7 linked regions of the Homo sapiens genome follow. The protein of the gene in region 5 purifies or fractionates together with the protein of the main gene of each other region. This does not show direct contact. Each region holds a gene or a part of one and is shown on either strand. Other genes may lie near its edges.

What was found.
Region 1: the proteins of SLC9A3 (region 5) and IQGAP3 purify together in Homo sapiens (affinity purification with mass spectrometry; one large-scale study listed by BioGRID and IntAct). This does not show direct contact.
Region 2: the proteins of SLC9A3 (region 5) and LRP3 purify together in Homo sapiens (affinity purification with mass spectrometry; one large-scale study listed by BioGRID and IntAct). This does not show direct contact.
Region 3: the proteins of SLC9A3 (region 5) and GRAMD1A purify together in Homo sapiens (affinity purification with mass spectrometry; one large-scale study listed by BioGRID and IntAct). This does not show direct contact.
Region 4: the proteins of SLC9A3 (region 5) and PRKAG1 purify together in Homo sapiens (affinity purification with mass spectrometry; one large-scale study listed by BioGRID and IntAct). This does not show direct contact.
Region 6: the proteins of SLC9A3 (region 5) and LRP6 purify together in Homo sapiens (affinity purification with mass spectrometry; one large-scale study listed by BioGRID and IntAct). This does not show direct contact.
Region 7: the proteins of SLC9A3 (region 5) and B3GALNT2 purify together in Homo sapiens (affinity purification with mass spectrometry; one large-scale study listed by BioGRID and IntAct). This does not show direct contact.

Annotation. Positions count from the first base shown.
Region 1 is NC_000001.11:156,527,566-156,531,065, forward strand, and holds part of IQGAP3 (ras GTPase-activating-like protein IQGAP3), read right to left. Parts: intron 2,753-3,500; coding exon 2,540-2,752; intron 1,865-2,539; exon of another isoform or gene 1,765-1,864; intron 1,518-1,764; coding exon 1,351-1,517; intron 1,046-1,350; coding exon 944-1,045; intron 496-943; coding exon 387-495; intron 1-386.
Region 2 is NC_000019.10:33,200,830-33,204,329, forward strand, and holds part of LRP3 (low-density lipoprotein receptor-related protein 3 precursor), read left to right. Parts: intron 1-2,018; coding exon 2,019-2,157; intron 2,158-3,500. UniProt on the Homo sapiens protein: Probable receptor, which may be involved in the internalization of lipophilic molecules and/or signal transduction. Its precise role is however unclear, since it does not bind to very low density lipoprotein (VLDL) or to LRPAP1 in vitro.
Region 3 is NC_000019.10:35,024,323-35,026,969, forward strand, and holds the end of GRAMD1A (protein Aster-A), read left to right. Parts: intron 1-1,726; coding exon 1,727-1,819; 3' UTR 1,820-2,147; downstream 2,148-2,647. UniProt on the Homo sapiens protein: Cholesterol transporter that mediates non-vesicular transport of cholesterol from the plasma membrane (PM) to the endoplasmic reticulum (ER).
Region 4 is NC_000012.12:49,008,777-49,012,276, reverse strand, and holds part of PRKAG1 (5'-AMP-activated protein kinase subunit gamma-1), read left to right. Parts: intron 1-2,887; exon of another isoform or gene 2,888-2,968; intron 2,969-3,500. UniProt on the Homo sapiens protein: AMP/ATP-binding subunit of AMP-activated protein kinase (AMPK), an energy sensor protein kinase that plays a key role in regulating cellular energy metabolism.
Region 5 is NC_000005.10:517,950-521,449, reverse strand, and holds part of SLC9A3 (sodium/hydrogen exchanger 3 isoform 1 precursor), read left to right. Parts: intron 1-3,500. UniProt on the Homo sapiens protein: Plasma membrane Na(+)/H(+) antiporter. Exchanges intracellular H(+) ions for extracellular Na(+) in 1:1 stoichiometry, playing a key role in salt and fluid absorption and pH homeostasis.
Region 6 is NC_000012.12:12,260,545-12,264,044, forward strand, and holds part of LRP6 (low-density lipoprotein receptor-related protein 6 isoform b precursor), read right to left. Parts: intron 1-3,500. UniProt on the Homo sapiens protein: Component of the Wnt-Fzd-LRP5-LRP6 complex that triggers beta-catenin signaling through inducing aggregation of receptor-ligand complexes into ribosome-sized signalosomes.
Region 7 is NC_000001.11:235,483,953-235,487,452, forward strand, and holds part of B3GALNT2 (UDP-GalNAc:beta-1,3-N-acetylgalactosaminyltransferase 2), read right to left. Parts: intron 564-3,500; coding exon 370-563; intron 1-369. UniProt on the Homo sapiens protein: Beta-1,3-N-acetylgalactosaminyltransferase that synthesizes a unique carbohydrate structure, GalNAc-beta-1-3GlcNAc, on N- and O-glycans. Has no galactose nor galactosaminyl transferase activity toward any acceptor substrate.

The sequences.
Region 1 (3,500 bases), on a different chromosome or scaffold from region 5:
CCTATGACTTAGCCAGCTTCTTAACCTTTTAGCCTAGAGCCTGTAAAATAGGGATAATACTTCAGAGCTGTGGAGAGGATTAAAGGAGGTAACATGTAAAGTCCCTGACATGTGATAGGGCTTCAAATATTAATCCTGCTTCTGACACCAGTAGCCCACTCCACTCTCCCTGATGCTTGCCAGTGGGGTCTGTGTCAGGGCATGGGGAAAGGGGGGCTTGGGCTGCACAGACCCCCACCCTTCTCTTCAGGAACAGACGATACTGATTGGGTGAAAAACTGAGCTGGTGTCATCTGAGGACTAGGAAAGTGAGGCCAGCTGCTCTCTTCAGGCCAGCACCTAAAGCCCAGCAGATGTCCTGCAGGCTCATGGGACTGTCCCCTCACCTGATAGTGAAGCTGAAATCGCTCCATGTCCACACCCAGGAACTTGGCATTTACTTCAAACTTTCCTGCCTCATCTCCCGGCGTGATGTCAAAGATGACGTTTCTGAAGCTGTCAGGAACAGGATTCAAAACAGGAACCCACTGCCTCTTTCCAGGGCTACAGCCACATTCTTGCACCCACTGCTCCTCATCCTGGGCAGCGGTGTCATCCAGAACCAGTTTTCCCTCTGTCACTCCCAGAGGGCCCAGCTCGCTGTCTTCTCCATTTTACTTCTGCTCCCCACACCATCTCTTTATCTGCCCCGCCCTACGCAGCTGTTCTCACCTCTGGAAAGCTTTCCCAGTACCCTCTGCCTCAGGGCATCTAGAACTGTGCTAGACCATGTCCACAGCCCTTCACTTTCTGTCTGGGCATGCTCTGTCTCCACCATCATTCTAGCAGCTCCTTCAAGATCGGGACCATGCTTCTTCTCTTCCACCCGGTGCCCAGCCCAGAGCTCCACCCCCAGGTTAGAGGACAGGAAGGGGCTGACATCCTGCCCTCCAAAGACACATACTGAGAGGCGGGAAGATCTTCAATTTCCACCAAGACACCCTTTTCCAGGAGCTGAGCAGCAGTGTAATGAAGAGAAGGCTGCTTCTTCCCCTTCCCAGAACTCCTGATTAAAAGAAGGCCCCAGAGAATTCATCCAATAAACACTTTACCACCAAAGAAACTTGTTTTCTGTGGCTGGAAAGGAAATGAGACCCCGAGGAAGACTTCTCACTGATGGAAGACAGAGGAGGGGGGCTGCACTTGAGCCCAAGACTTTGTAAATGAGGCTCAAAGACCAGACTTAGGAAGGGACTGTGCTGTGCTGGGTGAGATTCCCCTTTCAAAGCTGGGAGATAGCAGGGCAAAGGTGACATGGGCAGGGGTGAGAAGTCACTCGTAACCTTCCAAGTACGGGAAAGCAGCACCTACTTGGAGTCGGGGGCCAGGTGGTCCAGGCAGGCCCGGATGTACTGGCTGTAGTAGTCACCCTGCTCCTCATAGAAGGTGGTCTTAGTGCTCAGGCCCTGTAATGTGGCCTGCAGCTTCACCAGCTCTGCCTTCCGCCTGTGCCTGTGTCTGTGCTGGTTGCGGATGTCCTGGGGTTGGGGAACAGATGGAGGGATGAGTGGTCCTTCCTGGCAGGAGAGCCTTAGGGCCTGACACAGGCCCAAGAGCTACACACTGTGAGGCTCTTCGGAAGAACAGGCTTCAAGGCTGTTTTCCTAGAAGGAAAATCTCAAGGATGGTATTCCAAATCCTCAAGGCATGTCCTCAGGGCCTCTGCCCGTTGAGGACTAACTGGTTTCAAGGCTGTTTGTTTTTTAGTAAAAGAAAGTTGCAAGGATACTTTTGTAGGTCATAAGCTGAGGATTGGGTTTTCATGCTCTTGTGTGAGATATGCTTCTCTCAAACCTTCTGACCTGGGCACATTACCCAGCTAATGTGGGGAAGAAAAAAAAAAAGAGAGTTGCAAGAACACCTTCCTCTCTAACTAATTTCAAGATCTTTCCTTCAGGCTAGGAGTGGTGATTCACACCTGTAATCCCAGCACTTTGTGAGAGCCTAAGGTGGGCAGATTACTTGAGGTCAGGAGTTTGAGACCAGCCTGGCCAACATGGTGAAACCCTGTCTCTACTAAAAATACAAAAATTTGGCTGGGTGCAGTGGCTCACACCTGTAATCCCAGCATTTTGGGAGGCCAAGATGGGCGGACCCTGAGGTCAGGAGTTCGAAACCAGCCAGGCCAACATGGCCTGAAACCGTGTCTCTACTAAAAATACAAAAATTAGCCGGGCATGGCAGCGCGCACCTGTAATCCCAGCTACTTGGGAGGCTGAGGCAGGAGAATCACTTGAACCCAGGAGGTGAAGGTTGCAGTGAGCCAGGATCACACCACTGCTCTCCAGCCTGGATGAGAGTGAGACTGTCTCAAAAAAAAAAAAAAAAAAGAAAAAAAAATCTTTCCTTCAAAAAGGACCCTCAGCCTTCCTCTGGCTGGTGACAATTTTGGGTGAGGACTCATCAGGAGGGGCCCACCAACACTATGGATTAACATGTATATGCACGCACACACACACACGTACACACAGGCACACGGAGCCCAGGCCCAGGTTGTTACCTTGGCCAGCTCGTCCACTAGCCCCTGGTAGCCATTTCTGGCGCTGACCAACCCCAGGGCTTCAAGTCGGCGTAGGTTCCGCAGGACGCGCCGCTGCTTCTCTGCCAGTGGCAGGAGGGAGTGAGCTGTCAGTGAGCGGTGTCGTCGCAGTGGCTCCGGTGTCTGGGCTGTACAGGCCTGGCGTCGGCTCATCAGCTGCTTGTGGGCTGCTTCCTGGGGACACACAGACGCTGGAGGGGTCTACCAGGTCCTACCATTCTGCTCCCACACCAGTGAAGGTCCCATGGGCACCAGCAACAAAGGGAGGCCTGAGCATTTTTCTGCATATCATTAAGAAAGTGCCCCAGAGCCCAGCCTCTGCAGGATATGGCTGGGGCAGGGCATCGCTTATGAAGAATATCAAGGTATAACACCATAATGCATGGTGTCACACATGGGAGGGCCTCATAGATCACCACAGGGGAAGAGTGGCCCAAAGGAGAACCAAACCCAGGCCATGGCATAAAGGATTCCGGACAGACACTAGCTGTGACTTCCCAACAATGGATCTTTCTGACGGCACAGGATGTTTGGGGGCATTTACCTGTCTGTTCTGTTTTGGGACATACCTCTACTGGCCATCCCCACCTTTTCTTTGGGAAGACCCTGGTTCAGTCTTCACTCCAGCGGGCCCAACCTGCCCCTGGCCCCCCACCTGCCTACTACCTTCTCCTGCCTCCAGGCATTCTAGCAGACCACTCTTCTGAGTGCAGGCCTTCCAGGGGAGCATTCCCAGACGGTCTCTCAGTGCCCCCCATAGCCCTAGTGTTGGTGCTTGTTTCAGTGTGTGAAGTGGGGAGAGGGGTGGGGCCCCATGACTCTGTAGCCCGAGGCTTCCCAAGGCTAAAGCTGTATCCCTCATCCTGTAGGCCTCCAGAGTTCTCATTACTGGTGAGCACAGGTGTCTGCTTCTGGCTGATGT
Region 2 (3,500 bases), on a different chromosome or scaffold from region 5:
CCTCACTGACCTGGGACTGTCAAGGGTCTGATGGTGACGCAGTGGTGGCCAGCCTTGCTTTAGGACCAAGAGTTCTGTTCTTATCCTTGATGCTCTCACGAGCTGTCCGTGGGGGTTACTGGCTCCCTATTTGTCACAGTCCCGACTCACCTGGGCCTTCATGGTCCTAGTAGGCCCCCAGGGGAAGGGGCTTCAGCTCTCAGCTCATGGCTCCAGCTGCCCAGCAGGTCCTCAGATGGACCCGTCCACTCAGGGACCCACATCTCTGGAGCACCTGCCATGCATTAGGCACTGTGCAGGGCCCTGGGACATGGCACGGCCCTACCTGCCTGTGTGATGTTCATCCATCAGTCCCAACAACAAAAGGGAAATGCTCTGTGGCCGAGGCTGGGGGGAGGGATGGAGGGTTGGAGCTCTGTGGGGGCTATCCCGGAGGGCTTCCCTGGGAAGGGACCTTGGAGCTAGGGGTGGAAGCTGAGGAGTCCGTGAATGGGATAAGAAGGTGGGGATAGCACCCACTAGGGACCACCAGGGCCTCCAGGGCAAAGTCCCCTCCAATGTGAGAGATCGGAGAGGTCCGGGGGGCTAGGGGTTATGGGAGGGATGAGGCAGAGTGTGGGGCAGGGAGGGGGCTGGCGCTGCTGTAGTGAATTGTGGTTTTGTCCTAAGAGCATGGGAGGCAGCCAGAGGGCTCTCCTTCCTTTCCTGCAGCTGGGTGCCAGAGAGTCTTGCTGAGAACCAGAGAGAACTTGGCTTGCAAGGTCACGGTGCCAGGGGCCAGCCATGGGAGAGTGAGGAGAGAGTGTCACTGGGCTCGGGAAAGGGGTCGTCCCTCACCTCAGTTTTTCCATCTGCAAAATGGGCCCTGCCTTCATCTCAGGCTGTTGTGAGAATCAGATGGACCAGCGTGGGGAAGGGTCAGGGTGCTGTGGGGTGGGAGGTGTGGTCAAGTGCAGGGGCCAGCCGCCTGGTCCTGGGAGGGTCAGGGCACAGCGGGGCAGGGCAGGCTCACCACACTGCCCTGGATGGTTTAGAAGCAGAGAGCATGGAGAATGGATGGATTAAAGCGAGGCCCATGGGGCTGGGCATGGAGGGCTCCTCCTTTGAGCTGGCGGGCGTGATGCTTTGCTCAACCTGAGCGGTATACAGTTGGCACTCCATGAGTGCATGCTGGCTCAGTGCTGCAGCAAGAAGCTGAGGCCCCCAGAGGCCTACAGTGATTCCTGACTCTGCCCCTCCCTAACTGTGTGGCCCCAGGCAAGTCGCTGACCCTCTCTGAGCCTGTTTCCTCACCTGGTTCCGAGATCTACCTTTGGCGGCTTTGCACTTGTACTCAGGATAAAACTCAAATTCTGCACAAGGTGTGATCAGATCCAGGTGGCGTTTCCAGCCACAGCTGGACTTTGCCACCTCTCTTCAGGCCTGTTGTAGTATCTTCATTCCACTGAGGGGTTCTGCGTAAAGTTCGTCTGCTCCCACCCCCAGCCTATGAGTTCCATAGAGCAGGCCTTATTCCCACCTTACTCAGTGTGCCTACCATGCATGCTTGGCATGTAGTAGGTGCTCAGTAAATACTTGTTGAGTGAGCAAAGCCTCAGGGAAGGCAGGCAGGGGGCCATCGCAGGATGGGCTATGCCGGCTGGGCAGGCCTAGGGGTGTGGGATTCTCCACTGACCCGAGGCCACGAGGCTACACCTTGGAGGTGCCGGCTGGCAGGACGGGTTGTTGGTGGGTTTTCTCCCAGCTCTGCCAGAGATGCGGGGGACAGGACCTAGGCTGTAGTCCACTGCATAGGGTTGGGGGCTACAGCTGCCTCAAGTCTAGGGGGCCCTCCTTGGCCTCCCGTACACACCACCTCCATGAAGTCACAAGTTGTGGCCTTGCCCTTGGCCATGGCCACCCTTGGCTGGACTCGATCCCACCATGGGGGAGGCCTGTGCTGAAGCCCCCTTCCCCCCACTGCAACCCGCATCCCAACCAAAGATGGGCCGGCCTTTCTCGGCCTCCTCTCCCGACAGCGGCCTGCAGTGGGAAGCTGGAGCAGCACACGGAGCGGCGTGGGGTCATCTACAGCCCGGCCTGGCCCCTCAACTACCCGCCAGGCACCAACTGCAGCTGGTACATCCAGGGCGACCGTGGTGACATGATTACCATCAGGTAGGGGCACCCGGGGGTGTCGGAAGGAATCAATGTGGGCCCACGTGCATGGGGTGGGTGAGAATGTGTGTGTGTGAGCAGGTGTGGAGGGCACACGCCTGAGGGTGTACATGTGTGTGAGCAGGTGTGGGATCATGTGCATGTGTGTGAGCATATGAGTGAGGCGTGTGTGAGCACTCGTGTGAACAGGTGTATGGGTGTGTGCATGTGTGTGAGCATTTGTGAGTAGGTGTGTGTGCATGCAGATGTGTGTGTGTGAGGTAGGCGTGTGTAGGTATTTGAGCAGGTATGTGGTGTGTGCATGCATGTGAACACATGTAAGTAGGTGTGTGTGCATATGTGTGTGTGTGCATGTATGTGAACACATGTGTGCTTGTGTACATGGAAAAGCCCATGTCGGAGAAGACATAAAGGACACATGTGAGAGACTGCATGTGTGAGCACATGTATGTGCACGAGCCATGCCTGCAAAGGTGCAGAGAGCGTGTATGTGCGCATGCATGTAAGATAACAGGTGTAACCATGTGTGAACCGTAAGCATGTATGTGCACATGTGAATGCATGCACGCAAGTGTGTCCAGTGCTCTGGGTCTCCACGGGCCTCTGTGGCGAGGTGCCCAAGCTGGACCTCTTCCTGGTTTGAGCCTCGTTCATGGGGTGTGGGGGGTCTCAGTCACTCAGCTCTGCCAGGAAGGCAGGGCCAGCACACAGGCCACTGGGAACACAGCCTGGGACTGGTGGGCATGGTCTGATGTCTCTGAGGTGGCAGAGGTGTCCTCTCTGTCCTGCAGGGGTGGCTGGGGGCCAGGCTGGCACTGAGCCCAGAGCATGGTTTCTGGAGGGGGCCTTGGGGAGGGGAGTGAATCAGGCAAAGCCCGGGTGCTTGAGCTGCAGGGACATGCAGAGGGAAAGGGGGCCAGGCAGTGAGCGGTGGTCCTGGCCAGGGGTGGTCACAGGGACATTTGGCTGGGGAGTCACTATAGGTTCCATCTGCCATAGTTTTCCTAAATGCCAGAGCCCAAAAAGCGCAACCCCTGACTTACTCCATAGCTGCAATGCGTGAGGATGTGATGGGCATGGGCAGGGTCTATCCTAGTCTCTGTGCCTCAGTTTCCCCAAGGGCCAGGTGGTTCAGGGCCAGTGTATCTCCGGAGATGACAAGCTGTCAACCTGCTGCAGCCTTAGCCAGCCCCGTGGGCAGTCTCACCCTCACTTCCCATGCCTGGGACTTTGTGCTGGGCCCATCCCAGTGGTCCCGAGGTGGAGGGTTCTGGGCCCTTGGGCCACTGCCCTTTTGGGGAGGGTGTCGGGGCAGGGGGCTCTTGACTTCCTGCTCCACTTCG
Region 3 (2,647 bases), on a different chromosome or scaffold from region 5:
CTAGTGCCAGGGACAAAGCAGATGCCCAATAAATGTGATGTCATCACACGACAATTCCCTCAGGCCCCAGTAGACTCAGGCCAGCAGTTGCGGTGGGTCAGAGCAAGTGTCAGGCCAGCAGTTGCGGTGGGTCAGAGCAAGTGTCAGGCCAGCAGTTGTGGTGGGTCAGAGCAAGTGTTAGGCACTCGGGGAAGGTGTCGAGGGGGAAAGCGGATGGGAAACAGAGTCTGGCATTGCCTGCATTTCCAAGGCCATCAGAGCTGAAGTTGTGGGTGACGGTGAAAATCTTGTCTCATTGGACCCTTCCATATCAGAAGGCTCATCTTTAGGGGTCTCATTGCCCCCCGAAATCAAGCTTGGGAGAGGCTCACACTGGAAAGGGCGGGGCAGGATGGGGTGGGGAGGAGATGAAGGCTGAGGCCCCATCACTCATAGAGAGGGTAGGCAGGGCCCCCCATCCTGCGTTATTTTATTTTATTCTTTTGAGACAGGATCTCATTCTGTTGCCCAGGCTGGAGTGCAGTGGCACGATCATGGCTCATCGCTGCCTCGAACTCCTGACTCAAGTGATCCTCCTGCCTCAGCATCCTGAGTAGCTGGGACTATAGGCAGGCACCACCACACCTGGCCAATTTTAAAATTTTTTGTAGAGACCAGAGTCTCACCATGTTGCCCAGGCTGGTCTCAAACTCCTGGCCTCAGGCAATCCTCCCGCCTCGGCCTCCCAAAGTCCTGGGATTGCAGGTGTGATCCACCACGCCTGGCCCTGAGTTAAATTTTTATCATTTTCCTCTCTGTCAAACTGCTAAGGGTGCAGAGTTGACGTCACAGATTGGTGCTCACAGTAGATGTAGACTGAGCACTTACCTGCAGCTGGGCTGTTCTAGGTTTTAAGCATGACTGCTTTATCCCCACAGCCAGCCTTTGAGAAGATGCTCTTGTTATCCCAGTTTTTTTGAGACAGTCTCGATCTGTCACCCAGGCTGGCGTGCAGTGGTGCGACCTCTGCCTTCCAGGTTAAAGCGATTCTCGTGCCTCAGCTTCCCAGGTAGCTGGGATTACAGGCACCCGCCACCACGCCTGGCTAATTTTTGTATTTTTAGTAGAGACGGGCTTTCACCATGTTGGCCAGGCTGGTCTTGAACTCCTGACCTTAAGTGATCCACCGGTCTCAGCCTCCCAAAGTGCTGAGATTACACGCATGAGGCACTGTGCCCGGCCGTTATCCCGGTTTTATACATAGGTAGGCGATATGAGGCATCCAGAGGTTCGAGGAGCTCAGGAGCTTGCCCGAGGTCACAGAGTGGGTAATGGTGACAGCTAACATGTGCTGAGCACTTAGTGTACACCAGGTTCTCAGTGCTCTTCAGAACCCTGAAATAATCCTGTGGAGCAGATGTGTTATAGACCCGTATTTCAAATGAGGGGATTTTGGCTCAGGGTGGTTACGGGACTTGCCTGAGGTTAACTGAGGTAACAAGCAGCAGAGCCAGGATTTGAACCTAGGCCATCGGGGTCACAGGCACACACTAAGCCCCTTCCTCTGCTGCCTCTGAGAAGTTAAACTGGGTGCAGCATGGCTGTGCTCTTTTCACCAAGGGACCCTGGGGTGGGGCAGTATGGCCTCTAGACCGTCCTCAGTTTCTCAATGGCAAGGTGGGGGTGGGCGACATCACCCCCCAGCCTCCAGCGTTCACCCCCGACCCTGCTCACCTCCTCCCCGCAGATGAAGTTCTCGCTGGAGAAGCTGCACCAAGGCATCACAGTCTCAGACCCTCCCTTTGACACCCAGCCCCGGCCCGATGACAGCTTTTCCTGAGGACCCCGGCCACGCAGCTGTTCCCCCACATGGACAGATGGACACACAGAGCCTCGGCGGCCACTGCTGGCACGGTGTGAGCGCCAGGCATCTCCCACCCGCCCCTCCCGACGGCCCAACCAGGGGCTGTGCAGACGTGGGGACCACGGAACCGAGATGCACTTTAGACCAGGGAGCTGGCCCGGCCTCTGGCAGGCCCCCCACTAACTTATTTTGCCCGGCTGAGGTTGTGGGGGGCGCCTCCTGGGGTGCACGATTCCCTCAGCTCTGGGTTTAATGTATTATATTTATTTGGGGCCGACAGTGCCCCAATAAAGGGTCAGAAGTGGCTGTGGCTGTGCCTGTGGGGCCCTGGGAGTGGGTGGGAGCCTCCTGTTGCACTCAGATCCTGCCATGGTGGGGAGGGGACCTCTGTCTGTGTTCTGGGGCCATAGTCACTGAAACGATCTGGAATTCCCGCAGCATCTTACACAAGCTTTACATCATCTGAGGTCAACGCAGGAACTCCGGGGACAGACCGTGGTAGCTGGAGTTCAAATCCTGCTTCCTAGCAGTGGTGTAAATGCAGCAGGTCAGCCCCCTGGAGCTCCAGTGAGCTTTCCTGTGCAATGGGTAGAATGGCAGTAGCTGTCTCTCAGGGTTGTTAGAAGGCAGTGGTTCTCAAACTTGAGCTGCATTCGAATCTCCTGGAGAGCTTGATGAAAAACAGACTGTGGGCCCCTCCCTCCAAATTTCTGGTTCAGTAGGTCTGGGGCAGGGCTGGGATTCTGCCTTTATAACGAGTTCCCAGGAGTTGCTCATGGTGCCATCCCAGACGACACTTTGGTT
Region 4 (3,500 bases), on a different chromosome or scaffold from region 5:
GTGCCTATTTTATGTTTCTGAGTACATTTGCATTAGCACCAAGGCAGAAACTAGAAACTCAAATTGCCTACATGGACCAAGCAGTGAAGTGAACTACATATGAAAAGAAGGCGACAGCTGGGCCGGGCATGGTGATTCATGACTGTATTCCCAGCACTTTGGGAGGCCAAGGTGGGTGGATCACCTAAGGTCAGAAGTTGAAGACCAGCCTGGCCAACATCGTGAAATCTTGTCTCTACTAAAAATAAAAAATTAGCTGGGCGTGGAGCTGCATGCCTGTAATCCCAGCTACTCGGGAGGCTGAGGCAGGAGAATTTTTAGAACCTGGGAGGCAGAGGTTGCAGTGAGCCGAGACTGTGCCACTACACCCCAGCCTGGGCGACAGCACAAGACTCTGTCTCAAAAAACTAAAGGCAGCTGGGTGTGGTGGCTCACGCCTGTAATCCCACCACATTGGGAGGCCAAGGCAGGTGGATCACCTGAGGTCACAAGTTACAGACCAGTCTGATCAACATGGTGGAACCCCATCTCTACTAAGTAGAAAAAATTAGCTGGGCTTGATGGTGGGCGCCTATAATCCCAGCTGCTTGGGAGGCTGAGGCAGGAGAATCACAGAATCGCTTGAACCTGGGAGGCAGATTTTGTTGCAGTGAGCCGAGATCATGCCATTGTACTCCAGCCTGGGCAACAAAAGTGAAACTCCGTCTCAAAAAAAAAAAAAGGCGACAACTATCTAGGTCTGGTCAACTAAGACCTATTTTTGCCAGATCTTCAAGTCTGGGCACAGTGTAACACCAGCACTTTGAGAGGCCAAGGCAGGAGGATCACTTGAGCTCAGGAGTTCGAAACCAGCCTGGATAACTTAGTGAGACCCTGTCTCTACAAAAAATTAAAAATTTTTTGCACTCCAGCCTGGGCAGAGAGTGAGATCCTGTCTCAATTATAAACAAACAAACACTGAGAAAGCCAAATCCAATATGTTTATGGGCCTGTGGCCTGAATGATAGTATTTAACTATCAATGTAGTGTATGTATCTTCAACTGGTGTCCAAAGACATGTTCTTGGGAGTCTGAATTCTCAAGTTTGAATAACAATGGTAGGCTTCCAGTTAAAGACGGTAGATTGGTAGATTGGGCTGCGCGTAGTGGCTCATGCTTGTAATCCCAGCACTTTGGGAGGCTGAGGCGGGTGGATCACTTGAGAACAAGAGTTTGAGACCAGCCTGGCCAACATGGTGAAACCCCGTCTCTACTAAAAATATAAAAATTAGCCAGGCATGGTGACATGTGCCGTAATCCCAGCTACTTGGGAGGCTGAGGCATGAGAATCGCTTGAACTCAGGAGGAGGAGGTTGCAGTGAGTGGAGATCGCACCACTGCACTCCAGCTTGGGTGACAGAGCAAGACTCTGTCTCAAAAAAAAAAAAAGGTGGTACATTGAATATATATTCCCAAAAACTCCCCTAAAACCACCATAAAGGAATTTTTTTAAAGAAAAAGACACAAACACACCATAGGGAAAACAGGAGAGGAGATAATAGCAATGAATTTTTGGAAGCTGAAAAGCAGACAAAAGAGTGATGAATGACTTAGACCTGAGAAAACTGAATTATAACTAGCAGTGAGGAAAGCCAAGAAGCATTGAAGGTCTAAGAAACAGTCAGATCCCAAGACACCCTACCCCATTGAGTACAGTGGGCAACTCTGCCTCCCAACTGTGGCAGAGACTGGAAATCTGGCAAGGGACTCGGGCACAGCTTAGGGCTGAAGTACTGCACTGAAAACAGGAGCATGTAGTGAACTATACTCGATGCTGAGCCTCCAGCCCTTTCCCCCTTTTCAGTTTCCAGAGCGCTGGCAGAAGAGCCTTCACCCTCCAAGCATGAAATTGAATAATCCTTCTCTCCAGAATCCTCTTGAAGGGAAGTCCTAAAATATATAAGTATTGAATGTTCCCTATCCAAATGACTCACTGTCAGCAAGGCTCACTTACACACTTAGAGCTTCCACTCAGCTTTAAAGCCTCCACTCTTAAGTTATGGTTTAAGTTCTCCTTTAAACTAGGGATTACCAAACATCTAAAGAAAGGATCTGTGAAAAAAAGTGATCCAAACTGCCCCCCACCCCACTCTGGAATGTACCTTTGTTTTACTCTGAAGGCTGTATCTCCCTGGTAAAAAATAAATAAAAATGAAAAAGCAAACTGCCTCTCCCAACCTCATGTACACACAGAAGAAACAAACAGGAAAAAAGCAACTGGAAGGAAAAGATGAGAAGAAAACTTTAATAACATTAATATAATCTTAGATAAAGGAACATATTTCTCAATACCTGTGAAAGTAGTATATCTTTAAAGAAAACAACAGCCGGGCACGGTGGCTCACGCCTGTAATCCCAGCACTTTGGGAGGCCGAGGCAGGCAGATCACCTGAGGTCAGGAGTTTGAGACCAGCCTGCCCAATATGATGAAACCCTGTCTGTACTAAAAATACAAAAATTAGCTGGGCATGGTGGCATGTACCTGTAATCCCAGATACTCGGGAGGCTGAGACAGGAGAATCGCTTGAACCCAGGAGGTGGAGGTTGCTGTGAGCCGAGATTGCACCATTGCACTCCAGCCTGGGCAACAAGAGTGAAACTCTGTCTCAAAAAAACAAAAACAACAACAACAAAAAACCTTATTTCCACCATGAAACAAGTATAGGATACAATTTTTTAAAGAAGGAATTTTCAGAAAACAAAAAGGAACTCTTGGAAATTAAAAATATAGTAGCAAAAATTTAAACCCAGCTGGAGGTTTCAAAAATCAACATGAGGAAATTTCCCAGAAAGGAGAGTTAAAAATCAACAAAGTAGAAAATAGGAGAGAAGGTGCAGTGGCTCATACCTGTAATCCCAGCACTTTGGGAGACTGAGGCGGGAGGCCAGGAGTTCAAGACCAGCTCAGCAACACAGCAAGACCCTGTCTCTACAAAAAAATAAAAATTAGCCAGGCATAGTGGCATACACTTGTAGTCCCAGCTACTCAGGAGGCTGAGATAGGAGAATTGCTTGAGCCCAGAAGGTCAAGGCTGCAGGTGAGCCATGATCTCGCCATTGTACTCCAGCCTGGGTAACAGAATGAAAGCCTGTCTCTTTAAAAAAAAAAAAAAAAAAGGAGAGGAAAGATTCCAACAACCCACAAAACAAACAAACATTTAAAGGATCAGTCTAGGAGGTCCAGTATCTAAATAGGAGTCATAGAAAAAGAAAAATGGCAACACAGAGGGAAGGAAATAATTGAGGAACTAATTCAAGAACATTTATTGGAACTTGAGGACATTAGTTTTCATATTGAAAGGACCCATCGAATATTCAGCACAATGGATGAAAGTGACCCACCCAAAGCACAGTCATCCTGAGATTTCAGAACACTGGAAACAGAGATCCTATGAGTTTTCAGAGAGAGGAAAAAAAAGTCACATACAAAAAGTCAGAATTGCCTTGGACTCTCAACAACA
Region 5 (3,500 bases):
AACCTGGTTGGGGAAATAAGAGTCCGGGTACCCTGAAACCCACAGCAATGTTGATCCCAGGAGATTTCTACTCCAGGCAGCTTGGGACAGAGGATGGCCAGAGGGCCAGAGCTGCCTCAAGCAAACACTGGGGCTGGGGCCTCAGCAGGTGGCCCAGGAGCCTGGGCAAGGAACAGGTGCTGCTGTTGGCCCACCAGCCTCAGGCCGCGTGTCTGGCTCCGGCAAGGGCTCCCCACAAGCCCCCTATTTGTGTGCACTGGGGTTCCCCTGCCTTTTACAGCATCTTTTTAAAATGCAGAAGGGGAGGCAAGGGCCGAGGCCACGGAGCCACTCCACAGCGCAGACCTCCCAGACTGAGAGGACGAGGAAGTCTTTAGCAGTGGAGGCGGCAGGGCCTAGTGTCTGCCTCAGGCAGGGTGAGGGGGCTTCCTCCTGTGCCCCTTGGGGGCCCCCAGCCTGCAGCCACCCGCACCAGGGCCACTCTAGGCCTTAGGTGCCCACCAGAATCCCCGCCTCACCCTGCACCGTCCGTGTTGGGAACCCTGGGCCAGGCTTTCCTTCCTTCCTGGGCTTCCTCTGGGGGCTGAGGCTGTGCCTTGCAGAGACTGCCAGGCCTGGCAGCACTGGGTGGGGGCCCTGGGGTGGGATCCAGGCAGTGGCAGGTGTCAGGACTGCAAGCAATGGGCCCCTGGAAGGAGAGGGAGGCGGGGGTGTCAGAAGCCAGAGGAGGAGGCCTAGGGTGGGTCCCTGGGGAGGCAGAGGGAGGCCCGAGCAACTCAGCTACAGGCCTTGGAGGACTTTGGTCCCCACCTAGCGTCGTGGTGAGGAGTGGATGTGGTCAGATCTGAGTTCTCAGACGACTGCCTGGCCATGGGGCAGAGAATGGCACCGGGGAGATTCCGGGAGGATGGTGGGGAGCTTCCCTTGGGCATCAGGGCGGTGGACAGCAGGGCCTCCTTGAAGCAGGAGTGGGGATGTCACAGGGTCATCAGTGACACAGCAGGGGCCAGACCTCCTGGCCCCATCCTGTTCTCAACCCTTCGGGGGGCTCTGCTGCGCTGACCTCGCCCTGCAGCTCTGAGCCACACATGAGCGACAGGACCCGACCAAAAGGGAACTGGGGGAGTTACAATTTTGAGATGTCGGAAACCGGGGAGGGGCTGGGGCCGGGAGTGGATTCTAGGCCCAGCTGGGTCTATTTGTCCCCAGGCGTCTGGCCGTGGGTACCCCTTGGGTCGTGGACGCACAGGAGGTGTGGGAGCTGACATCCCATGGGGCCTGAACTCCAGAGCTGGGCAGCGCTGGCTCAGGGAGGTGGCGCCTTGAGGGTTAGGACCTGAGCAGCGGCAGTGACTGCCCACGGGGAAACCAGGACAGTGGGGCTGGGTGGGGGCGGTGGGGGCAGGCTCTCGAAGTGGAGCTTGTGTTGCTGAGGGATGTGATGGCGGAGGCCCAGGCCGCCCCACATCTTGGTGAACCCTGGCTGGAAGGGCAGGCAGGAGCGAGACGGGTATCTGGAGTCTGCAGTGCCTCGCGCAGCCGTAGGAGGGTCAGGAGGACGCTAGGGCACAGGGTCAGGAGTGCAGCCCCCTGCTCTGAGCGGCGCAGCCCCCCCACCCCCCTCTGAGCGGCGTTACCCCCACTGTGGGAGTGTGGGAATGCTTTTCTGCAGGAGCTTCAGCCTTGGGGTTCCAGCACCTCCTCCTTAACTGGACAGGGTCAAGACCCAGATCCCTGAGCGCCAGGTTCCCTGCTCCCGGCCCCAAATCTGAGGCACTGGGTGCTTCCTTGTTGTCTGGGTGGGTGCAGGAGGTCGTCCTCACCCGACACTTGACTCCCGGACCCCCGCTGTCTTACCCAGCGTGTCCCAGGGAGCCTCCGCCACTGGGGGTGTGACACTGCCTAGACCACCTGCCTAAGCTGTGGATTTCTCCCAGGTGCAGCCTTCCACCGGGCACTCAGTGCCCAGGCTGTGAGGGCAGCTGTGGGTCACCTTCACCTCCTGGGGTGAATGGTTTTATTGCATGTGCTCTGGTCCTGGAGGCAGGAATCCCTCAATGCGCACAGCACCTACCCCTTCACCATATCTGCTACCCACTCCAGCTGAACTGCCCTTAGGTTCTCCTTGAAGAAGCATAGGAAAGGAGGTTCTGGGGACAAGGATGGCCTAGAAGGCCAGGGTGGTCAGCAAAGTCCCCAGGGGACCCAGTCCTCCCAGGAGAGGACCAGTGAGTGGGCCCTGTGGACCCCAGTCCTGGCAGGAGAGGTATGCTCAGTGGGTTTGGAGTCAGGAGCCATCACGGGAGGCCTGGAAGCAAAGACTCTCCCAGGAGTCTCCACAGGGGAGGGTCTGGCCCTGAAGGGGTGAAGTTTCATTTTCCAGGAGCTGCCCACGGAGAATCAGCTGTAGGCTATAAAACAATCCATGGCGTTTGGAGCTAAGGTGTCGCCCGGGAGAATCCTGAGGAAAGGGGCAAAGGTTGGGAAGTGCTGATAGCATCGGGGCAGGGAAGGAACCACCAGGGCTCCCTGTGGGTACCTGGCAGCTCCGCCAGAGGCTGAGAGAGAGACAGGGATGGTGAGTCACTCTTGGCCGCCAGCCCCCCCAGCCCACTCCCTGCCACCCCAGGAGCTCCCCGCCTCTGGGCGTGTGTGGCGCTCCCTGTGACCACACAGGCTTGTTAAGATGCCTGTCTGGGCCCAAGCTCCAGCACCCAACCAGCCTCATGTCTACTGCAGAAATGGCTGAGCTCTCCCAGCGTGGCCACCCCCACTGCCGGCTTCTCCAGGAGCCAGGGGCTGCACTGGGGCATGTTTAGAGTTGGGGTTCCCATCCTGCACATCATCTGCCCAGCGTCTGGGCTGAGTCCCACAACCAGGAGTCTCAGTGCACGATGAAGCCACCAAGGCTTTCCTCACCCACCCTTGAGACAAGAGTCTCAGGATACCAGGTGTCAGGGTGCCAGGTGTTGGCGTGCCAGGTTTCTGGGTACCAGGTGTTGGGGTACCAGGTCTCAGGGTGCCAGGTCTCAGGATGCCAGATCTCCAAGTGCCAGGCCTCAGGGTGCCCGGTCGCGAAGTGCCATATCTCAGGGTGCTAGATCTCAGGGTATCAGGTCTCAGGGTGCCAGGTCTCAGGGTACCAGGTCCTGGGATGCCAGACTCCACCCTCCCCCAAATCATGCACTCACCCCAGCTTCATCCCTTCACACTCAGCATCTCTCCTGCTCCACCTTTCCTGAGCTCGGAGCCTTCCTCCTCTGAGCTCCTGAGGACACCTCCTCCTCCAAGGTCTTTTGGCTCAACCAGGTTGATGCCACAATGGCAGAGGTTGTCTGTCTTATTCCTCCTGTGTCCCCAGTGCCTGTCCCCAGCAGAGTCCTGCAGATCTGAGCACGTGAATGGACATGTGGATGGATGGATGGATGAGTGAATAGATAGATGGATGGATGCGTGGATTGATGAATGGATGAATGGATGAGTAAATGGATGGAAGGGTG
Region 6 (3,500 bases), on a different chromosome or scaffold from region 5:
CCAGGACATAGCGACACTTAAAATGTTTTACCAGTCTTTCCAGAGTATAATGTTTCTTTTAATTCGGCCATCTTAATAATAGCAACCATTTATTCAATGTCTACTATTGACTGTGCGTTCTACTACCCCTTTACAAACATTTCGTCAGTTCTCACAGAAGTCTTGCAAGTTATATCCCCACCTAACAGGAAAGGAAATAACTTGTCCAAAGGAACACAAAGCGGCAGAAGAGTTTAACTTGGCCTGTTTAACAACAAGCCATGTCTTTCTGCTATAGTACCTTCCATATAATCTTCTCTAAATGTAAACTTTCAATAGAATTTCTACGATGAAAATAATCTTTCTCAGAGTAGTTACCCATGGCCTAAATAGCACTAAACATTATTTTTCCAGTATGCGCAAAATATTTAAACAAAAAATATACGTTCTCATAAAATATTTTCCATTAATATATCCCTTCCCAGAATCTCCTTTGATATTTAAAACAGTCCTTTCTGACAGCCAAAGCATATATAAGGACACAGTAGTTCAGTACAGCAAATGGAAAAACTTCCAATTAAAGCAAAGAAAAAAATCTCTTAAAAATTGAATCATGGCCGGGCGCGGTGGCTCACGCCTGTAATCCCAACAGTTTGGGAGGCCGAGGCGGGCGGATCACGAGATCAGGAGATCGAGACCATCCTGGCTAACACGGTGAAACCCCATCTCTACTAAAAATACAAAAAATTAATCGGGCGTGGTGGCGGGCGCCTATAGGCTGAGGCAGGAGAATGGCGTGAACCCGGGAGGCGGAGCTTGTAGTGAGCTGAGATCACGCCGCTGCACTCCAGCCTGGGCGACAGAGCAAGACTCCGTCTCAAAAAAAAAAAAAAAAATTGAACCACAGGAAATCACTATTAGCCCTTCTGATAATAACAAGCTAAAACCTTAAAATTTAATAACCAGACAAATTATTGTTTAGCCAAATGAGCAAACCTGAAGCCAGGTAAGTAAACAGGAATGACAGTATCAAATTAACTATATGAAACTGTCATCAAATATCAATGTAATACTTGACAAGTTTGGAAAATAATAGGTTAAACAAAGTTAAAACCGGTCTCTTTACCTCAGGACTTTTCAGAACCCTTAATGTGTTAACATGAATTCTAATCTCCAAATAAAGTGTACAGAGATCACTCAAGGTTACACAGCAAATTTAGAACCATAACTTAATTCTCCTGATTGCCACTCCAAAATTTGTTCTACTTCCCCAAGACTTTATAACACCTGATTTTAAAGGAAGAAAGGATCGCTTCTACAGAAATACAAGATGCAAAACATTAGTGGTTTGTTCCAACAATATTTACCAGCCCACCAAAACAAAAAAAAGTAACGAAGAATTTTTATATAACAAGCCTCCTCAAAAAAAGCTAAAAAGGCCAGGCGCGGTGGCTCACGCCTGTAATCCCAACACTTTGGGAGGCAGAGGTGGGTGGATCACCTGAGGTCAGGAGTTCGAGACCAGCCTGACCAATATGGTGAAACCCCATCTCTACTAAAAATACAAAAATTAGGCCGGGCACAGTGGCTCACACCTGTAATCCCAGCACTTTGGGAGGTCAAGGCAGGTGGATAACTTGAGGTCAGGAGTTCAAGATCATCCTGACCAATATGGTGAAAGCCCGTCTCTACTAAAAATATAAAAATTATCCGGGCATGGTGGTGTGAGCCTGTGGTCCCAGCTACTCAGGAGGCTGAAACAGGAGAATTGCTTGAACCCAGGAGGGAGAGGTTGCAGTGAGCTGAGATCATGCCACTGCACTCCAGCCTGGGCGACAGGGTGAGATACCGTCTCAAAAACCAAAAAAATACAAAAATACAAAAATAAGTCAGGCATGGTGGCAGGCACCTGTAGTCTCAGCTACTCAGGAGGCTGAGACAGGAGAATCGCTTGAACCAAGGAGGCAGAGATTGCAGTGAGCCAAGATCGCGGCACTGCACTTCAGCCTGAGCGACAGAGCGAGACTCCGTCTCAAAAAAAAAAAAAAAAGCAAGCTAAGAAATAGTATTTCACAGATTACACACACCGATGGTATTCCAAAACCTATATTCTTATCAAAAATACTTCCAGCAGAAGATCAGATATTATTTTTTCTCATCAGTATCCGAATGGAACTAAGAAAATGGTAAGGATGGCAACCTAAACTGTGAGGCCCGTTAGATTAGGAAACACATTGTTTTACTCACCATCAGTACCAGAGGCTGACATATAGGAGGTATTCCATACATATTTGCTAAAAGAATGAATAATAAATCCCTGCCCCATCTTTAATTAACCTACCTTTATTAAATTACAGTATCTCTGAATCTGAGTTTCCCCACTTACAAATAAACTGGTGAGGCTCAAACGACCAAGATCCCTTTCACTTTTAAGAATGTGTGAATCTGGGCCAGGCGTGGTGGCTCACACCTGTAATCCCAGCACTTTGGGAGGCCGAGATGGGCAGATCACCTGAGGTCGGGAGTTCGAGACCAGCCTGACCAACAAGGAGAAACCCCATCTCTACTAAAAATACAAAAAAAAAAAAAAAATTAGCTGGGCATGGTGGTGCATGCCTGTAATTCCAGCTACTCAGGAGGTTGAGGTAGGAGTATCGCTTGAACCCGGGAGGCGGAGGTTGCAGTGAGCCGAGATCATGCCATTGCACTCTAGCCTGAGCAACAAGAGCGAAACTCTGTCTTTAAAAAAAAAAAAAGAATGTGTGAATCTGGCCGGGCGTGGTGGCTCACGCCTGTAATTCCAGGACTTTGGGAGGCCGAGGTGGGCGGATCACGAGGTCAGGAGATGGAGACCATCCTGGCTAACACAGTGAAACCCCGTCTCTACTAAAAAATACAAAAAAATGAGTCCCAGCTACTCAGGAGGCTGAGGCAGGAGAAAGGCGTGAACCCGGCAGGCAGAGCTTGCAGTGAGCGGAGATCACACCAATGCACTCCAGCCTGGGCAACAGAGCAAGAATCCGTCTCAAAAAAAAAAAAAAGAATGTGTGAATCTGCACCTGTAATCCCAGAACTCCGAGAGGCGGAGGTGGGAGGATCACTTGAGCCCAGGAGTTTAAGACCATCCTGGGCAACATAGCAAAACTCTGGCTCTATAAAAATTAGCCAAGTGTTATGGCACACAACTGTGGTCCCAGCTACTTGGGAGGCTGAGGTGGGAAGATCACATGAACACAGGAGGTCCAGGCTGCAGTGAGCAGCGATCATGCCACTGCACTCCAGCCTAGGCAACAGAGCAAGACCCTACCTCCAAAAAAAAAATAGGAATTCGTGAACCTGGCCAAGCATGGTGGCTCACACCTGTAACCTGTAATCCCAGCACTTTGAGAGGATCACTTGAGGCCAGGAGTTGGAGACCAGCCTGGGCAACATATCAAGACACCCCCACACCAACCCCATATCTACAAAAAATTGGGGGCATAGTGGCACGTGCCTATAGTTCAGAGCTTTGGGAGGATGAA
Region 7 (3,500 bases), on a different chromosome or scaffold from region 5:
TGTATTACAGACTTCTACAGTTGGAAGTAAGAGGCAATAATACTCACTTATCCTAAGAATCCTAAACTTTTTTTATATCCATTACCAACTTTTGAAATTCCCTAGGTTTTAGGGAATTTTAGGTTGGAGATTTCTAATCTAGTCAACTCCTTCTCTTCTAGATATAGCACATTTATTCACAGATAATCTATCCCCAAACCAGTCTTATATCACACTACAGTGTATTTAGTCAATAGGGGAAGAAAGGTGAAAGTCTCTCAACCAGAGAGAATTATATAGTCTTCCAATCTACTTACTGTATGTCACAAGGAAAAGTTGATGTTTTTGAAAAAGAAAAAAGAGAAAAAACCTGTACAGAGCAGTGCATACCTCTTGTTCTGCCTGATAAAGTTTGACAGTGATGTTCCTCTGGAAACCCACATCATTGGCATCGTAGAACACTCCAAGACTGGTAATAACGATGGGGTAGAGAACTCGGAAACTCACGCTGACAACTCGATCCTCAGGCAGCCCCGATGAAGTGTCTTCGGACAGACTGAACGCTTCAATTTCCTGATTCAAAACTAAGTAATGAGAACAGGTTTATATAACTGAACAAATGTAATCCTTTGTTTTACTAGTAAGAAGTAGTGAAGTGGGCTTAATGCCAAAACCTAGGTAATCATTTGCTATATAATTCACAAATGGCAGGAATTTTTAAAAAATGCTTGAGAAAAATGGCTGCTTCTATATAAACATTTTTGAAATTTAAGAATAAAGTTTTCAGCCACATCTAAGTAAGTTAATTATCAGAACTGCTTTAATAGCTTTTTGCATAAATGTGTGCATATATATGTATAAACGCCACAGGAGATATTAAATTTAAGTCAACTGGAAGGCATCTATTTGGAAGGGTTGGATAAATAGAAATAAGAAAAACAGTACTGACTGTAGTCATAAATAATCAGTAAATTTGGTCTTACTGTGCAAATTCCAAAAATCCTACTTCTTGTTAGGCAATTTAAAATACTTGTGATACATCAGGCAATTATTACGGTATAAATAAGCAACTGAAGTCACTTCAAATAACACTGAAAAACTCTTGCTGTACAGCACTGATAAAAGATAAGCATATCAAACACAGTTTTGAACCATCTTCTATGTACCATTTCCCATCACATTTATATCTTCACTACTACCCTTGTGGTTGTGGCATTATCTCCAGTTTACATATTAAGAAACTGAGGCCCAAAATTAAGCAATTCACCTAAGGTCATAGAAAGTGGCAGATCCAGGAATCAAGTCCCATTTAGTGATTCCAAAGTCAGTCCCCTTTCCACTCCCTCACAGCTGTCTAATCAGTGCCAAAACAGTTCAAATAATTTTTCTTTTATTTCTTTTTTTGAGACAGTCACCCAGTCACCCAGGCTGCAGTGCAGTGGCATGAACATGGCTTATTGCAGTCTCAACCTCCTTTGCTCAAGGGATCCTCCTGCCTCAGCCTCCTGAGTAGCTGGGACCGCAGGCACACACCACCAGGCCTTGCTAATTTTTTGTAGAGATGGGGGTCTCATCATGTTACCCAGGCTGGTCTTGAACTGCAATCCTCCCGCCTCAGCCTCCCAAAGTGCTGGGATTACAGGCATGAGCCACTGTGCCCAGCCTTCAAATAAATTTTCTAATTACCATAAATGAATCAGAATACATTAAATAAAGCAGTTCATAGGCAGGGAATATCAGTGCTACTTTAATAATATAAAACCCTATTTTAAAAGATTATATCAAAGTTCTTTGTATCTTTTAGAGCTGTGGTTTTCAAATTTTGCTGACTACACAACACCATCAGTTAAAAATATTTGTACACACACCTATTTACTTACAAAATATATGCATATATTGTGGTGAGTCTATATATTCAGTATTAATAAAGATTGTATTTTCTTATTTTCAGATAAATAGAAATTCTAAGCCTGGGCAACATGGTGAAACTCTGTCTCTACGATACAAAAATTAGCTGGGCGTGGTGGCACACACCTGTAATCCCACCTACTTGGGAGGCTGAGGCACGAGAATTGCTTGAGCCTGGGAGGAAGAGGCTGCAGTGACCTGAGATTGTGCCACTGCAGTGCAGCCTGGGCAACAGAGCAAGACCCTGTCTCAAAAAAAAAGAAATTACATTTTCTTCCTATACTCTAGGTCATTTGGTTGCCCACGTCAGACTTCCTAGAAGCTCTTTACACTCAGTAGATATTCAGTAAAATGGGATTAAAGGGAAGTGATGACTCCTACCTAATTATAGACATGAACAGGAGGGAAAAAAGGGAGAATACAGTTTTTTGTCATGGGCTGGGCAAGCACTAACTGGAGAGTCTAGACTACAACATAATGGACAACAATACAATTTTTTCTCTTTAAGATATTCAGTAAATAACAGATATCCATAGTAGAAACCTCTTTATTAAAAGCAATAAGTCAATTATAATATAGCATTTTTAGATATTTTCTTATCTAAAAGAATTGTGCCTTGAGCTTCAAGTTACGTGGACACAGGAAATCCCGTTGCATTACAGTGCTATTAAACCTTCTACCACAGCCACAGTATCACGATGATTAATGCTTACCATGACCTTCAGGTACTGAAATAACCATAACTGCCTTTGGATCATCGAAAAGATAAGATTAGGTTCAATATTAACTTAGTTATATACGCATTTAAAAATTCATAACCTAGGTATTACATATATGAAAATGTTCTTTTAACATAAAGTTCTACTTCTTTACTTTTAATAAATAACAGCACTTAAGATAATAAAAATATGGTTAATTTAAAAGTGAAGGGCTTCTTTTTGTTTTGGTTTGGTTTTCAATTGTAATTTGTTGGAGGATACATCAGTGGATACCACATCAGTGACATAACATTCTATGGGGTTTATGATCCCTTTAAGACTCCAGTGAGGCCAGGCGTGGTGGCTCACGCCTATAATCCCAGCACTTTGGGAGGCTGAGGGGGGTGGATCACGTGAGGTCAGGAGTTTGAGACTAGCCTGGCCAATGTGGTGAAACCCCATCTCTACTAAAAATAAGTCAGGCGTGGTGGCGGGCACCTGTAATTCTAGCTACTCGGGAGACTAAGGCAGGAGAATCGCTTGAACCTGGGAGGTGGAGGTTGCAGTGAGCCGAGATCGCGCCATTGCACTCCAGTCTGGGTGACAAGAGCGAAACTCTGTCTCCAAAAAAAAAAAAAAGACAAGACTCCAGTGAAAGCCAAAGGACTTTCTCCCCAGCACACAATTCATACATAAAATTTGCTTACAATGTTAACTGAATTCACAGACATCCTAAGTAAGAAACCTCTATTTTGTAATACAGACCTGAATATATTGTCCAATTTATTTAAAAAGCTGTTTGAAACCCAGCTTTATAAAATAGCAGGCTCTTTAAAATAATGTTCAGTACCTTCCACCTTCTAGGAACTATTATTCTAAATACATCATATGTATCAACTTATTTCATCCTTATGT